Linked DNA regions of Homo sapiens: region 1 is linked to region 2. Evidence: fine-mapped expression QTL. A gene starts in region 2. The other region holds a variant in brackets. All regions are shown on one strand. Distances are from middle to middle. Region 1 overlaps CFAP58 (cilia and flagella associated protein 58). Region 2 holds the start of CFAP58-DT (CFAP58 divergent transcript).

Region 1 (8,342 bases), 33 kb before region 2:
ACAGGTGCTTAAGGAGGGATGGGATTGAATTTTAGTAAATGTCTTTCAATGTATATAATTTTGTACTATTCTTTCTTATTGGGTCAATTGATTTGATAAACCTAGTAACAGATTTTTCCTTTTAAAAATATTTTAATTTCTTTATATATAGTTCCATGTGCCACAATTTAAAATAAATTCATAAATGTGAAATATACATTTATTTTCCTTATTTACTTGAACTTTCTCCCTTCAACATCAGCCCCTCTTCTACACAAAACAAAACTAGGTTAACAATCTACTATGTATTCTTCCATATTTTTCATTGGATTCTGCATATTCTATTCAGGTCTACAACCTAATAATAATAGCTAATATTCATCAGTTACCTTCTATGTACCTGACATTTTATATGTATTAGCTCCTTTAATCTCTCAAAAATCCTCTAAGATATGTACTATTATTGCCCCCAATTTTACAAAGAAGGAAACAGATCAAAATAAGTAATATTTACAAAGTTATTCAATGAGTAAATAGACAACTACACAGATTTGTTTGTTTTCTGTTTGGCTTTTTGGGGTTTGTTTTTACTTTTTAGCCAAATGGGATCTTATAATTACTCTTAATGCACTTTCCTTTTTATCATCAAATAATACCTTGTAGAAATCATCACTCTAATTCATTCTCTTTAAAGGTTGCATAATATCCTATAGAGTGGGTGTGCCATCATAATTTAATTCTTCTCCACTGATGGGCATTAACTTTGTTTCCACTTTTTTGCCACTCTGAACCATGCTACAGGAAACATTTTTGTATGTGTATTCTCATGCACTTGTGCATTTATTTCTGTGGGATGGATTCCCAGGAGTAGAATAGCTGGCTCAAAAGACATATATATTTTCAACTTTAATAGATATTGCTAGATTGCTTTCCAAAATGGCTGTAACACTTTACATTTCCACACCACCAGCAATAGCTTTCTTAATAGAAAACTATCCTTGCAGCTTCAGGATAAACCCTCCTTGTTCATACTGGATGATTCTTTTAATGTACTGTTGAATTTGGTTTGCTGGAATTTCATTTAGGATTCTGCATGCATTTTCCCAAGTGAGCTAGGCCTATATCTTTCTTTTTAGTTCTTTTTTAATCTCAAGGTTTCTGTTAGTTTCATAAAGTGAACAGAGTACAGTATTGTTCACTTATTCATTCACTCCCCCATTTATTCATTCACTCCATGAACAGGTACTGAGGACCCATCTATGGCAGGCACTGTAAAAGCACGCATGATAGAAAGAAGAATAAGACACATTCTCTACCCTCAAGTTCACTTGTAGGGTGTGACTTCACCATAGAATGGATAATCAAGGAATGGATATAACCAGTAAACTGAGATATGCACCAAGTGTTATGGGAGAATCTAAGACTGAAAGGTTAATGCTTAATAGATTGAAAATACTTTGAACAGCATCATCAGCATTCAGAATATCAAGCAGCACGTTAGAGAAAGGAAAAAAATTGTTTGTTCAGTCACTTTCAGAGATGTTAGAACAGGAATAATTCTTTGCACAGGCAGAATAATGCCACAGAGAAAGGAGGTAGCCAGGGGCATTTCTTTTTTGAGCATCCAACTAGCATGGTCTGTCTTTCTGCAGACAACATGCACAAAAGTCACAAACTTGCTTCTGGATCCTTGAAGCTGGAGTAATAAGAACCCGTCAGGACACCAAGAAGATAAAAGGAATTAACAAATATTGAAACGAGCAGAAAAGACAATTTACAAGCAATGTATTTCTAAGTGTTGGGACTCGGTTTATTTTTATGGAAATCATTCAGGCCAAAGTCATGCAGAAGTTCAAATCCTGAAAATTCATAAAGTATATGGGTGTTAAGTAGTAGCCAAACCTCTTGTCAGCAAGCTGTCCCCATTAGAAGTGGTATGTCAGAGACACAGGCTGCCAGCTGTGGGGCTGGAGCTTAATTAATATACACTTTGAGATACCTCAAACCAACTCATGAGATAAATCACATCCAAATATAGAAAGTTTTATTACAGCCAGAGAATTGGTGCTCCTGGCACTCCTAGGCTTCAGGGGAGTCCAGAAAATGCTTACAGTGCACGACAGAAGTACAGCCTCAGTTTATAACCTACTCCTACCTTTTCTGTTGCCGTTAAAACAACCTGCCAATAGAAATAAGAGTGAGATAGAAATCAATAACGCATACAGGAAAACTGCAGCATAGCCAAAACATCACATAGACCAAGGTGGGATTAGAAAGTAGGTCATTGCATTTGGAACCCCTTAATGTACATTTGATGAAATATCAGTACAATAAACTTCTCCAATAAGTTTTTCTGACTTGATGTCAATGGTTTGAATGCTGACAATGCTTTTACCTTCATAATGAAACTGAAAAACTCACTCTGCAATAATAGAAAACAACTATGCGCCCTGGCTTGCGAAATGCTGAGTCTTCCCTATTTTTCTTGCCTTGTTATTTTACCCTCTATCTTGAATTTAGAGAGGCATATCTATGGCTTTGATTCAATTGCATAACATATTATATTATGAATGGGGGATATAATAATATCTATCTCACAGGGCTATTATGAGGATTTAAGTGAGAGAATATATGTCTACGCCAGCATATAAGTACTTAGCATATAGTAATTTAATCATTTAATAAATGCTAACAAATTATTATGATAGTTTACACTACGTCACGTTACATAATACTAGTACTTTAAAAAGTTAATTTGATTTTCCTCCGAATCAAATCCTGTTCTGCAGGAAAAGTAATGATATGAAGCATGCTTCTTTTATTATGATAGAAAAAGCTTATAATTTGTGTTCCCTTGATTCCTCTCTCCAGGATTCTACCCAATTACAGAGGCTCTGTATAAAATTCAAATTAACATCAATGAAACAGGAGCTTTATTTCATTATGAAGATATCTATCTAGTGGACAATATTTCTTTAATCAATTTTTGGTTTCTTTGCTTGCATTAAGTCCTTGAAAGCACATTATTATTCATTTCCTGGAATCTCTGTCCTGAAGAGCTTTGCTTGACAGTGTTATAGGCAAATGAGCAAAGAGCTAGGAAATTTGTTGTTAGGGATTTGTTGCAAAAGAATGTTTTCTGGCATATAAAATGTCTGCGAGGTGACTGCCAGAAGTTTAATATTTGAAATGAAAAAAGAGGGAGATCCTAAAATGAGGCAAGTGCATCATGTGAAAAATGTTCAGCAGATTTAATAATTTACTAGGAGTGGTTTTATCTAGAACATGTAAAAGTTCAGAAAGCAGGAAATATGGTAGA[T/C]CACAACTTACCATGCCATTTCTCATGCCTCTCAATTTATCTGAATAGTGAAATTTAGAGTGCAGCAAAGGAAAATCATGAGGATAAAAACTGCTGTAATCCTGGGGTAGATTATCTTACGGTTTAACAAATGTTCACTCTCTCCCCTTGTCCCACAACCTAAAGAGAGAAGTGCATTTCCCTTGCTGTTGATGTTAGCCTTGGCCATGTGACTCGCTATAGCCAATGGGAGGTCAGAATATCAGACAAGTAGAGAGACATGACATGTGCCTGTATGCGTGGCTTTGTCTCTTGTTCTCCTTCCTTCCCCCATGAGAAGAACATGCACGTGGAGGATAAGAAACATGTGGTCCAGAACTGAGCCCAATCCACATCCCAGAGCCAAGTCCAGGCAAGCCCAGTTTAGGTCAGCTGAACCTCTGTCAACTGCAGGTGTGTGAATAAGAAATAAGTGCTTGTTTTTGTATCCCACGGAGATGTTGTGGCTATTTATCATGCACTATTATTATTGCAAGTGTTGATGGAGACAAACACATAGGAAAAGGTTTGGGATTCTGAGCCATCCAGTTCAGGCACAAAAGGGGATCTTCTTCCTCACTGGCAAATGCCAAGCTAAATGAATACAATATAATGTAGAAGTTTAGCATCTTCAAGTTCACTTTTCTTTCTCTAAGCAAGAAAGAACACGAAGGCAAATGTTGATGCTGTTTTGCAGCTCAGAAGGAAGAAGAGACCAGGTCTGGAAGTCACTCACAGCTAAAAATGCCAATGATAATTCAGATAAAATCATCCATCATGGTAACATGTTTCACATGAATTTAAAGGAAGGGCAGACCCATAGTCACAAGTAAATATATTGTTAGAAAATAACTTGATACAGATACTTAAAAGTGAGCCTCTGACTAGTTAACTCAGATGTCCAATTATGCTTTCCATTCATTCTTAGTTCAAAAAATATTTGAGTATTTACTTAGTAAATAAGCAATATGAAGAACTCAAAATTGAATAAGACTCGCCCCCAAGAAGCCAGTGTGTAGAATGAGGCAGACATACACAAGTAACAGTTACGTGCACACGGGCCTCCTCAACTGCCAGAGGGGAGCCAAGTACAGAGGAATTAGAGATCACTTTTAATAAAGCTTCTTGGGAAAGGTGGAATTTTATTTGGTCCCTGAAAGAAAGGCAAGGTTATTAATAGTGTTTATTTATTTTTTAAATCAGGATACTAAAGTAATACACAACCATTTTACTTTTTCTTATTTTTATTTATTTATTTATTTTTTTTTTTTTGAGATGGTGGTTCACTCTTGTCACCCAGGCTGGAGTGCAATGGCACAATCTCAGCTCACTGCAACCTCACCTCCCAGGTTCAAGCGATTTGCCTGCCTCAGCCTCCCAAGTAGCTGGGATTACAGGTGCCCACCACCACTCCCAGCTAATTTTTGTATTTTTAGTAGAAATGGTGTTTCACCATGTTGGCCAGGCTGGACTTGAACTCCTGACCTCAGGTGATCCACCCACCTTGGCCTCCCAAAGTGCTGGGATTACAGGCATGAGCCACCATGCCCAGCCCATCCATTTTAGAATAGCTAAAAAAAAAAAAAAGCAAAAAAGGAACAAATTTAAACAATTTGTATCCTTATCACCCAAAGATAACCACTATTAATATGTTAATATGGTTCCTTCCACTCATTTTCCTATTAAAACAAAAAAGGGTAACTAGGCATCTATCTGCTTTTTCTTCTTGCCTAAATTCTCAGAGAATTTTTCTTCATTATTGTAGATGAAACACACACACAAAAGGGCTTTCCTCTAGGGCAAGTCTACGGAGAGTCTCCTGTCACTGATTTTGCCTGGAACATGGTCAGCCTGTACAGGTCTTTCTTCATCTCCAGAAAATATTTTCCCACTACATCCTTGACCAGGGGCTCATTTCCATAATCAGAAACCAACTCTCTGTAGGCTGGTTTCTATTCTCTGCCCTCTTCTCTCTTATCTTCTCTATGATCATTTTTGTAGAGACCAGGTCTCCTATGTTGCCCAGTCTGGTCTTGAACTCCTGGCCTCAAGGGATCCTCCTGCCTCAGCCTCCCAAAGTGCTAAGATTACAGGTATGAGCCACCACACCTGGCCTGATTCCATTTTCCACAACAATCAATTCTGTTCTTTACTAACTTTGGTGTGGATTTTAAATCTGCCTTTTTTTTCTTTTTTCTTTTTTAGTTTTTATACAATTGATTCTTATTTTGTCCAACTCTTCCTTTTTATTTCATCTTTGCTTTCTCCTAGCAGTAACGCCATGTTGGATTTATAACTCAGGTGATAGTCCTGTATTCTACTGGGGTCACCTTGTCCTTTACAACAACAATAAGTCTAGACTTTCCATTCTATGTGCTGGGAAGCCCCCAAACCCTCTAATATCTCCAAGAATTCTTGGAAGAATTGCATTTCTTCTACTTGCTGTGGCTCTGGTTTGCTGTTGCCATAGCATTCTAGATTCTCAGGTGCATCTTGTCTCTTGCACATACTGTCCTTTTTCTGGGATGTGTCACCTCACATCCTCACCACCCCATGCCTGTGCCACCAAAGTGCAATCACAACGCAGGGTTGATGTAGCAGATTTGCCACCGGAGGTTTGAGGAACTTAAAATCCAATATTGGACATCACTGTTTTCTGCAATTCCTCCATCATTCCTGTCTTAGGGAACTCCTCACTTCCAGCAGCACCCAGCCTACTGCCTTGATGCTGACATTGTGTGCCCTCCTCTCCCATTCTTCCCTATCTACTCCCTATTTCCTGCTCACCACCCACTCCTCCTTTCCCACTTCCTGTTACTTTTCTCACATGACTGTTTCACTCTGGTTCATGGAGCCTCACCTTTCAAACCAAGGCAAATATCAAGGTATTTTGCTAAACACTGTTCCTCCCACAAGGGGAAACTTGGCACCAGGTTTTATGTACTTACAATCTTTGAAGGAAGCCAAACCTTTTCTCTGCATTTTCTTCTATTAGGTTAAGAACCTTATGAAATCGCTGATAGTCAGTTGTTTCTTACTTACCACAAAAAGGCTATTTCAAAGAGTTCAACCTAAAGTTCTTGCCATAGAAGCATTTTCAGAGCCAGACCTTTACCGTGGGGCTTCTAGAAGCCATTCTCTTTCTTTGGTTCTCAGGCATGTTTTCCCATAGGCTCCATTAGGCTGCTTTTTTCTTTATTCGTTCTTGAGCAAGACAGGATTTACCACAACCTAAGAACAATGCTACTAAGGTGAAGGGGTTTACCTTTGCCCAATTCTTAGTACCCTAGGGTGGTGGCAGATCCACTTTCAAATCTACAGCTGGAAACACAGTGACATGCCAAGTCCCAGTCCACCTCCCAATTTCTAATATTCTTTAGTGATATTGGAGGAGCCAAATTAGGTATGTCTCCAGTCCTTTTTGTATGCATACAGACAAAACTGGAGACAAACTCTACAAATAATTTTGCATTGTCTTTCTCAGATTCATATTAGAAACATGTTCCCATCTTTAAAAATAATTTGCAAACACATGATTTTAACAGCTACATAATACTATGTCAAATAAATGTAACACAATTTATTTAACCTTTCGGGGGGCTGATTCCTAGTTCTCATTATTATAAATTATGTTTTGAAAAAATATTCTTTCATATAAATCTCTCCATTTCTTATTTTTCATTAGATTCAGTTTTTTCTTAAAAAGGAAAATTCTGGGTCAAAAAGATAAACTTGGAACAATGTATACTCACTTTAGAAGTAGAAGAAAATGTCAGTTTCATGACATCTTCCCCAGCCTTTGATATTATTTCTCAATACTCTACAAATAGAATGCACATAAGGGAGCTTTTCGTTTGTGAGAATGAGTGTGTGTGTGTGTGTGTGTGTGTGTGTGTTGGACAGTAAAGAAAGAAAGAAATATGAGAAGAGGACAAAGAGACATACATATCCTTAAGAAGTCCAGAGATGCACAAGTTGCGTAGCAACTGATACATGCTGTCAGGGGTTAAGCAAGACACAGAAAAATTGTAGGTGATAAGTAATATTTTAAGAACTTGTGTTTAAATTATTTAGGTAAGACATTATGTGTGGTTAAATATCAGAACTTGTGAAAAACAGTTAACAAAAAAACTTGGTATCCGAATCTCTCTTTTACAAGGAAGCCAAGAAATATATACAATTGTATATTAAAATCAGTGGCAGCATTCTTTTTACCACTTATCATCTATCCATTTGTTTAACAAATACTTTTTTGGTGTCTCTCATGTGCCAGGATGCTAGAAATAAAGAAATGAATGAAATAAAGTCCTTGCCCCCAAAAGCTCACTATAAAGTGGATAAAACAAATATGCAAATAAATAATTACACTATAGATTGATAATCATCATTCCAGAGACATTAACAAATCCATAAAAGTACGAAGTGACAAGCTCTGCCCATAAGGAACCAGAGGGAGCTTGACCTGAGCATTTGAGTTAGGTCTCGAAGGGTGAATAGGAATGTGCCATGCAGAGAAAGGACAGAACTTTCCACAGAGAACAAAGAGGTTGGACTCTATCCCATTAATGCAGAGTATCCCAACTGCTGTGCCTTTCATGGGTTTCAGATGTGTGCTAAAATACTGATTTTACTATACCCACAGGATGGCCAGGTGGGACCTGGGCAGCTGGCATCCCTGGATTGGTTCCTCCAGCCCCAAACAGCTTCATCTCCTTATTCCCATGTGCCACTGACATGTGCATTAGTCCATTTTCATACTGCTACAAAAAACTTCCCTGTGACTGGGTAATTCATAAAGAAAAGAGGTTTAATTGACTCCCAGTTCCGCTGGCTGGGGAAGCCTCAGGAAACTTACAATCATGGTGGATGGGGAAGCAGGCATCTTCTTCACAAGTCACCAGGAAAGAAAAGAATGAAGGAGGAACTTCTAAACACTTATAAAACCAACAGTTCACATGAGAACTCACTCACCATCATGAGAACAGCTTAGGGAAAACTCCTCCATGATCCAATCACCTCCCTCCCT
Region 2 (8,342 bases):
CATTTAGCCAAATGCCTGGCAAATAGTAGGGATTCAAGGAATTTTCAGAGCTATTATGATTATTCCAAACCCTGGTCTCTTTTCACTGGGCCCTGCTTCTTATTGCCCCTAAGACTGCAAAGGGCAGCGGGGGGTGGCCACGGTGTGTTGAGGCCAGACATAGGAAGATCTTGGCATAGATATCATGAAATCACATATACAGTGAAACTCACCTGAAATATGCACTTATCTCCCAAAAGAGATTCCATCATTTTTATTCCTTAGAAATGTAGGCTAGGTCATGCCCCACAGTGTCCTAAAATGCCCCTGTGCAATACTCATGGGACTTTTCCACATTTGCTTTCCATGGTTAGATGGGCAACAAATTATTTCAAAATATAAGCCCAGACATATAGATATAATTCAAGCAAGTCTGGCTATTACTTAGATGAGAACCTAAGAGTGAGTTATATCGGGATTCTTATTTCTCTACTTTTAGGGGTTGAATTGTGTCCCCCAAAAAGGTATTTTGAAGTCCTAACCCTGCTAATCTGACCTTATTTGGAACAGAGTCATTTAATAAGTTAAGATGAGCTCAGACTGGAGTAAGCCACCCAGTTTGTGGTGCTTTGTTATGGCTGCTCTAGCAAACAAATCCACCTACTTCTTGTTAGCTACAACATAATAATGAAGAAGAATGGGTATGGTTAATATATTTATTCATTCATTGAGCAAGTATTTATTGAACATCTGCCATACATAAATTCTATGATGGATTGGGAATAAACAGCTTATCCACAAGATGAGTAATAAACAGCTTATCCACAGGGAATTTATACTTAATTGCTGGTGGGATATGAATGCAGTTAATGAAAGCATAGAATTTGATCCCTATCATAAAATGTATTCAAAGTTCTCTATGAACCCACAGAAAGAGAATTATTCCCAGCAGCAAGAATAAAAAAAAAAATCTCAGAAAAAAATTGGCATTTGAGCAGGCCCAGAAGGAAGCTAGGGAGTGAGGGACACACAGTGAAGACACTGAATTACATTCAAAGGAGTACGGATTGCATTATTCTGCAGGCCACAGGGAACCACTCAAGACTTTTGAGCAAAGGACTCATAAGGCTTGCAAGGCCTTACTTACGTTTGCAACATTATGTTTTAATATTCTACTCTACAAAGGGCCTTGGCATCAACACTCTCTTGCTAAAAGAAACCAACTGAAACAATCTGTAGTCCCAATAATAAAGTAAAATTTCAATTCACCCTGAAGATTTTAAGGAGTCTAGTTTACCTTCTGTTTTGACAAGCCCGTCTTGCCCAATATGGAAAAAGTCTACGTATTCTTGGTTTTCGAAAACACTTGTACTATTAATTAAATCTCTAACGATGACATGCAAGCAAAACAGTCTTTGTAAATTAAAATAAATGTAGAGTCACAAGCATATCTATAGCATTTTGTATAACAACTTTAGTACTAATTTTAAATTCACATAGGTTTTTCTTCCTGACTAAAAGCAGATTATTGCAAAGACCACAATGTAGTAATTCCACAAAGGAGGAAAAACCATATTAAGGAAATACGGTGTTGCTGCTGTTCTGTTCTTCTCCCTTGTTGATGCTAAACATAAGCACACACAAAAATTTGTCACTGCACTGTTCTTGGTTCCATCCCTGTAAATGGTATTAACGTCAACACTTGATCAACAGCCTAATGATTTGTTAGCAGTCCAAGTTTTACCTGTTTACCTGGCACTTAGCACAGGAATGGAAAAATACCAAAGAAGGAAAAGTTTTAAAGAAACTTTTAGGAACAAAAGAGATTTGTTCCTATTGTCATTAAAAGCAAAGGAAAAATAATCTCTTAGCTTTGGCCAATAAACAGTTGATATTTCCACTGTTATAACATATAATGGTATCTGTTTCAGAAGGATGAAATCAACGTGAACTGATCAGAAAGGAACTGTGGCATTTCTTTATTCTTCACCTATTCACTGATTGTTTGCTATGTGCCAGGCACTGTCCTGTCCTAAGTTCTGGGAATATCAATTAGTGGGGAGAAGGAAAAGGGAAAAGGAAAAGAGAACTGCAATATAAGATGAGGCCAGAGGGGAAATAGAGAATTGTGAAAGCAGAATCGAGAAAGTTGGCTGAGGTCAAGTAAGAAGAAAAGTAGAAGAAAGGAAGAAACGAGAGGAGTAACAGAAAGAGGGAAATGGAAATAACTAATCCATAATAGTGGAGCAGCTTCTGAGGCCGGCACCTGGGCAGGGTTCCTCACAGAAATATGCAAATATATCCTGAATAGGGCAGAGCCAAGGAAATGAGGGGCTGGTGCCTCTGGGAGGCTGGGGCTTCCCTATGGGGAATGAAGAATGAAATAAACAAAGATGACTGGTGGGAGAAAAGAGGAGAAAACACTCAAAAGCAATAATGGGACAATAAAGAACTAGAAGGAACAAGAAAGGAAATGGGAAGAAAGAGATACAAATGACTATGGGTAATGGGGAGAAGTGAAGTGGCCACAGCAGCATGGATGTCAGAGAGAGATGTGAGTGATGGAGCCCAGGCGTGAGGAAGATGGATGATATGAAAGAGATCGTATGATAAGGAAAGGAAGGAGGTGTTGACCACGGGAAGACGGAATTTATAAAGCTAGACTGGAGATGGAGGAAAAGCAATGATGAGGGGATGTGAATGGTGCAGAGGAAGCAAGAGAGTAACTAGAATGGGGTGGGGAGGGGGTGGAGCACGATGGTGCTGAAAGATGATGGGGCTTGGGCTGGCTTCATGGGAGTGAAAACTGGTCAGTTGCACAGGGCCCCTTGCTCAGAAAGGCCCCATTCTTGGTTGAATGCTCTGCTGTTCTGTCTTAAAATTATTTGTAATTTTTGAAGAGACTTTGTGTTTTCACTTTGCATCAGGCCTTGCAAATCATGTAGCTGGTCCTGGCTGGAACAGACCGTGGGATGGGTGATGGGGGAAGGGCTCTGATGGGGCCATGAAGGATTTGGGTAGGGCCATAGTGGATGGGGACTGTGAATGGCAAGTAATGACAGGGACCCGAGGCTCTTGAGGTTATACGTGAGGGGGCTAAGGGGCAGGCAGGGAGTCACTGAAGGGTTGCAGAAATAACCCCTCATTGGAGAGGCTGAAAATGGGGTGTACTGTAATATGGGGGAGTGGTGGGGTGATACGAGATGTTAACACAGGAGTCAATGAACACACGGGGCAGAGGTGATGGGCAGAAGAGCCTTAATGAAGCTGTGTGACAGCAGGTGATCACATGTTAGGAAATCAGGGTGTGACAGGTGGACAAGGGCCATTGATTGGGATGACAGCAGGCATCTGTGAAGCTTTCTTCCCGGTTTCCCCTGTGAGATAAGACATCTCCAATATTTCTGTGTGAGCCTCTCTTATGGTATCACTCCATGACTAAAAATCTAGGGCTGGGTGCATGTCACGTGTGGATTTCAGAATTCATTAATTTTCTACCGCACTTAGCATAGCGCCGATGCCACAGTGGGGATAGTGGGGTGTCCACACAAATGAAGGAGAAACAGGAGGTAAAGAGGCCAGAGCCAACGGAGAAAGGCGCGGGAGTGAGTGAGGGTGCAGGGGAATAAGATGTTGATGGGGGGAAATATTGGAATCACCGTTTGTGACAATCGTCAGTAGGAGAGGGACAATGGGGAGGGGTCAAGGGAAAGGCGACAGAGGGGCGCTGACTCCTGACCTCAGCCATCCTGATGCTCTCTGGGGGCGGCCTCAGAGGCTGCTGTGGAGATCGCAGGAGCTGGGCCGGAGTCTGGGAAAGAAGCTAAAGGCGCGACGCGCTGTCTCTATCGCCCGCCCCGAGCGGAAACCCGCGCTCGGCGCGTCGGCCCGTCGCCTGGCAACGGACACGCCCTCTAGGGGCGCTAGCGGGAATTCGAAAGGGGAGGAGCTTCTGCGGCTGGCACCTGGGCAGGGTTCCTCAGAGAAATATGCAAATATATCCCAATGGGGCGGAGCCAAGGAAGTGAGGGGGCGGTGCCCCTGAGAGGCTGGGAGGAGTCCCACGGTGTGGGCAGATGGAGACACCCAGGAGAAAGAAGAGGGCGAATTGGAAGAGGCCACCCAGAAAGGACGGTGTGTGACACTAGGGAGCCAAGCATGGAGAGCCGAGGACTAACGCTTGGAAGGAAATGTGGACCAGAAGGTTCCGGATGAGGGAAGGACTGGCGGCTACACTCTGCCTTCCGAGACAACGAGGAATAATCTCACTTCAGTCAGTTCAACCCTTGTAAAACAGCTACTGTGTGCAAGACACGGAGGGAAAGCTGAAGTAGAGAAACCACAGACGCTGTCTTCAAAGGGTTTAATCTAATATTAGTGATGAGAAAAATAGGGTGCAGAGCTTAAGGCATCCTGGAAAAACGTATGTAGCGCCACATCGCGAAAATCTCTCTTCTGGGACCCCTCTCCCAAAAACGTTTCTTCGCCCTCTTCTCCCCCTTCTGCCTCCACTCTTTCTGGACTTCAGGTACAAATAGTTGAAATAATTATACTCCTTGGTTCATGAAATGTGTAAGACTCCTCTCTGGTTTTATTTTCCCCCTTTATCCCCATCCCTACTCCCAACCCCTATCCTCAACCCCATAGGCATTCATGCTGCTGTGCTTCCATATGTATTTTTGGGAAATGTACAAAATTTTTATCAGTGTATTTTTTAAAAATGTTTAAATAATGCTACTGGACTTTGGAGATTATCTTATTTTCTACTTTTTTCACTCAACATTCTTTTTAAGGATCTGTCCTCGTTGCGATTGGCAAGCATATAGTTCATTGCTTCTGAGTACTGCACAGCGTTTCATAAGGGGCATCTACCACACTTCACTTCCATTCCCCAGGTGTTAGGTAACAAGGCCGCCTCTAATTCTCCAATACATCAAGTAATACAGCCATGATCGTCTTTGTCCGTGGTCCCTTAAGGACCTCTGTGCAAATTCCTCTGAAATATATGCCAAGGAGTAAGATTGTTAAAGTTATAGGGATGCACAGGGACATTTGCTTATGCAGCTGCGTCCTGCACAAACACATCCAGCCATGGGGCAATGGAGGCTGAAAAACTGTCTCTACTCTCTTTCCCGTGCCATGTGCCCTACTGGAGAAAGGTGTGCACTTTTTATTCTCACAAAATCTCTGTACGCCAGCCAAGTCATGAACCTAGAAGGCTGTAACTATCTAGAGGGTGTGATATTTTCAAACTCATCTGGCCAGATGAACAGTTTTCCAAGAGCACAACGATGCCCAGTAGCCTAGTACAAGCCCTGGGTACTTACCAAGCACTTTAAGATTGTGTACCAGAGTTACTGCCCTACGCTGCACTCCAGTGTGGGGTTTCCATCCAACACTTCCATCCATCCCTTCCAGAAGGTGATAGGTCTTTTTTATTAAACACTCATAAAGTGTTTAGTAAATACCAGATACTATTCTAAGTGCTTTGCAAATATTGACTCATCTAATTAGCTAATTTTCTAATTTCTGTCAATATGATGAAAGTAGTGTAAGCTCATTTTTTGCTTTCATTTTCACTTCTCTAACTACTAGTGAATTTTTTGACCATTTCTTTATACATTCATAGGCTACTTGAGATTCCCTTCTGTGAACTGCCTTTTCAGTGTCTGTGTCTATTTTTCTATTGATCTTTTTTCTTTTTCTTTTGATTTACAGATATCTTTGAGAAGCCTGGACATCAATCTGCTTTAGAAGACTAGAAACTCTGCCTTTATGTCTTTAAGGGAACAATAGTCCTTAACTTTGATACTGTGGCTCTTTAGCTCTTTTTTTCCCTATATTTTTTATATAGTTTTTTGGTATTATTTAGACCTCCTTAACCCCACGGTCATAAAGGTATTCTCCCATCATTTTTTTCTATCCATTAGCTTCATAGTTTTACTTTTTTACATTCAGTTATCTAATCCATCTGGAGTTCTCCTTCCCATATGGTGTGAGATAGGGATCTAACTATATTTTTCTCCATGGGGTGAGCAAATTTTCCAACAACCCATGTCAAACAATCCATTCTTTCCAAATTGGTTTGGGGAAGTTTCCAAATAGACATGAGTATGTTCTGAGCTCTCTGGTTTGTTCATGTGTCAGTACCACAAGGTTTTGTCACTGTGGGTTTTTAGTTAGTCATCATGCTTGAAGGGCAAGTTCCCCATTCCAAATTCTTCTGTGTTAAGATTGCTTTGTCTATCCACGGGCCTTTATCCTCCCTTATAATGTTTAGAGTAAGTTTGTCAAGTTTATGAGAACTGTGTTGGGTTGATGAATAAATGCAAGGAAAACTGGCAACTGTGCAGTGACATCTCATTCATGACCTGACACTGTATATCTGGTGGACAAAAAGAGGGAAATGTGGCTGAGTCATAATGTGCATGGAGGTTGCTGGAGAGGTGGCAGATGAACTGGAGAGGCAGGCTGAACCACACTGTAAGCCAAGCTAATAGAAATGAGCTTGAAATGGGACAGGCAACCCAGCTCAGGCTGCTTTGTGTGTTCACAGGAAACCTGATTACACATTGGGACCATCGGTTTGTAGGATTGCCATGATCCAGAGAAACTCCATAACATTTCTGAAAGTATATAACAAAAATAAAGACCTAGAGGGCCCTGGTCACCCATACGTTGCACTGATGTCAAGTGCAGGGCTGTGTGTCTTCCCATGTCCAAGGGATCTCCTAAAAGAGCTTTCATAAGTAGGTGCCCTGCATAGGTGACAGCAGTTCAATCCAGTAAACAATTTTTTAAGGAACGTACTGCATGGTAGGCACAAGGCTGCCCACAGGAAGCACCAAGGTGACTATGGCAGAGTCACTGCCCTTTGCATTCACAATCTGTATTAGGGGAAAGACAGAAGGGAACATCTACAGTTAATTCTAATGCAATAAGATGGTATCATTTAGTATATGCCATTTTAACAGAAAGCACAATGGGAGCTCAGAGAATCTAGATACTGGTATCTGAGACCTTACTTATAGGAGGACAAAAAGACCCAAATATGACTGAGCAATCAAAGAACCACAAGGAGGTAGAAAGGCGCGTGACATGTTCAGCTCATAGGAAAGAGATGCAGGGGGCATCAACACAGATGGATGAATGGATGAAAGGATGGGTGGTCGGACATATCAATTTATGCTGATGAAACAAAATGTTTGATTTCCAATTTTCTGGATTACAGAAGACTAGTCACCACCCTGCTCCCCTGTGTTGTTGTAATAACAAGAATCACTAGGTGGCATTATAGTATCAAAGTCCTCACCTTTCAGAGCCTCTAGGAGAAACACACCCAACAAGATCGCGTCAGCCCCTAATTTAGACAAATGAGTGCTTCTATTCATCTCATTTCTCATTATATCCACTTAATTTATTTCTTGAGCACCTACTATATGTCCAGCCCTATGTTGCATACTGTGGAGAGAGAATACAAAAGGAGTTGAAGACACGATCTTCTCCCTTGAGGAGCATCAGGAGAAGCAAATTGTGCACGCCAACACTCCCCTTAAAAGATTTTCTGACAACAGTCCGAGACAGGATATAGTAAGCACTGAAATGAGGATGTCAGTAAATAAGGTCCTGTGTAATCTGGCCCTTTCGACTTTCTGGTGCCAGCTCCCATCACTCACTCCTTGTTACACTGGTTCTTTCAATTCCCTGGGTAGCCATGCTCTTTCCCACTGCCTGGAATTCACAAATGCTGATCTTCCTGTCTGGAATACTTGACTCTCTCTCTTTCTCTCTTCAGCTGGCTGGCTCCCATCCAATCTTCTTTCAGATCTCACTTCTTCACATTACTTTCAGTCTCACTTCCCCAGACTACCTTTTCCAGCATTGTGTATTCTACTTCTTGCATCATCCCACAGTGGTAACTAATGGCCTAGTCATGTAAATAGTTGCTTAATACCTGTGTTCCCTACCACACCGTCAAACTACAGGAGCTCTAAGATGATGCACGTCTTCTTCACCCCTGTCTCCACTGGTGTTAGGGGCTGAATTGTGTCCCTCCAAAATTCATAAGTTAATGTCCAGATGCCCCCTACTTCAGAATGTGATGGTATTTGGAGATAGAGCCTTTAAAGAGGTGATTAAGTTAAAATAAGGCCGATCAGACTGGTATCCTTACAAGAAGAGGAAAATTGGTCACACAAAGAGACACGAGGTATGTGATGTGTGCACAGAGAGGAATGACAGTGAAAAGGAGACTATCTGCACAACAAAGAGAGGGGCTTCAGAAGAATTCAAACCTGCTGACACTTTGATCTTGGACTTCTAACCTCCATAACTGTGAGGAAATCAATTTTTTTGTTTGTTTT

The links.
Region 1: its variant is fine-mapped to the expression of CFAP58-DT in blood mononuclear cells (TOPMed, PIP above 0.99).

What each region holds. Positions count from the first base shown.
Region 1 is chr10:104,382,624-104,390,965 of GRCh38, reverse strand. All of the region lies in intron 9 of CFAP58 (cilia and flagella associated protein 58), which reads right to left. Among named protein-coding and RNA genes, the nearest start is that of CFAP58, 33 kb to the right of the region's middle. The variant T/C (reference allele first, on the strand shown) is at 3,299.
Region 2 is chr10:104,349,283-104,357,624 of GRCh38, reverse strand. CFAP58-DT (CFAP58 divergent transcript) reads left to right here and starts at 4,050. Exons shown (of 2, transcript NR_108036.1): 1 at 4,050-4,507; 2 at 5,698-6,324. It overlaps CFAP58 (cilia and flagella associated protein 58), which reads right to left and starts at 3,792. Exons shown (of 18, transcript NM_001008723.2): 1 at 3,719-3,792. The coding sequence starts at 3,727. RefSeq lists enhancers at 4,063-4,122, 5,400-5,509, 5,530-5,579, 6,338-6,397, 7,628-7,747 and 1 more.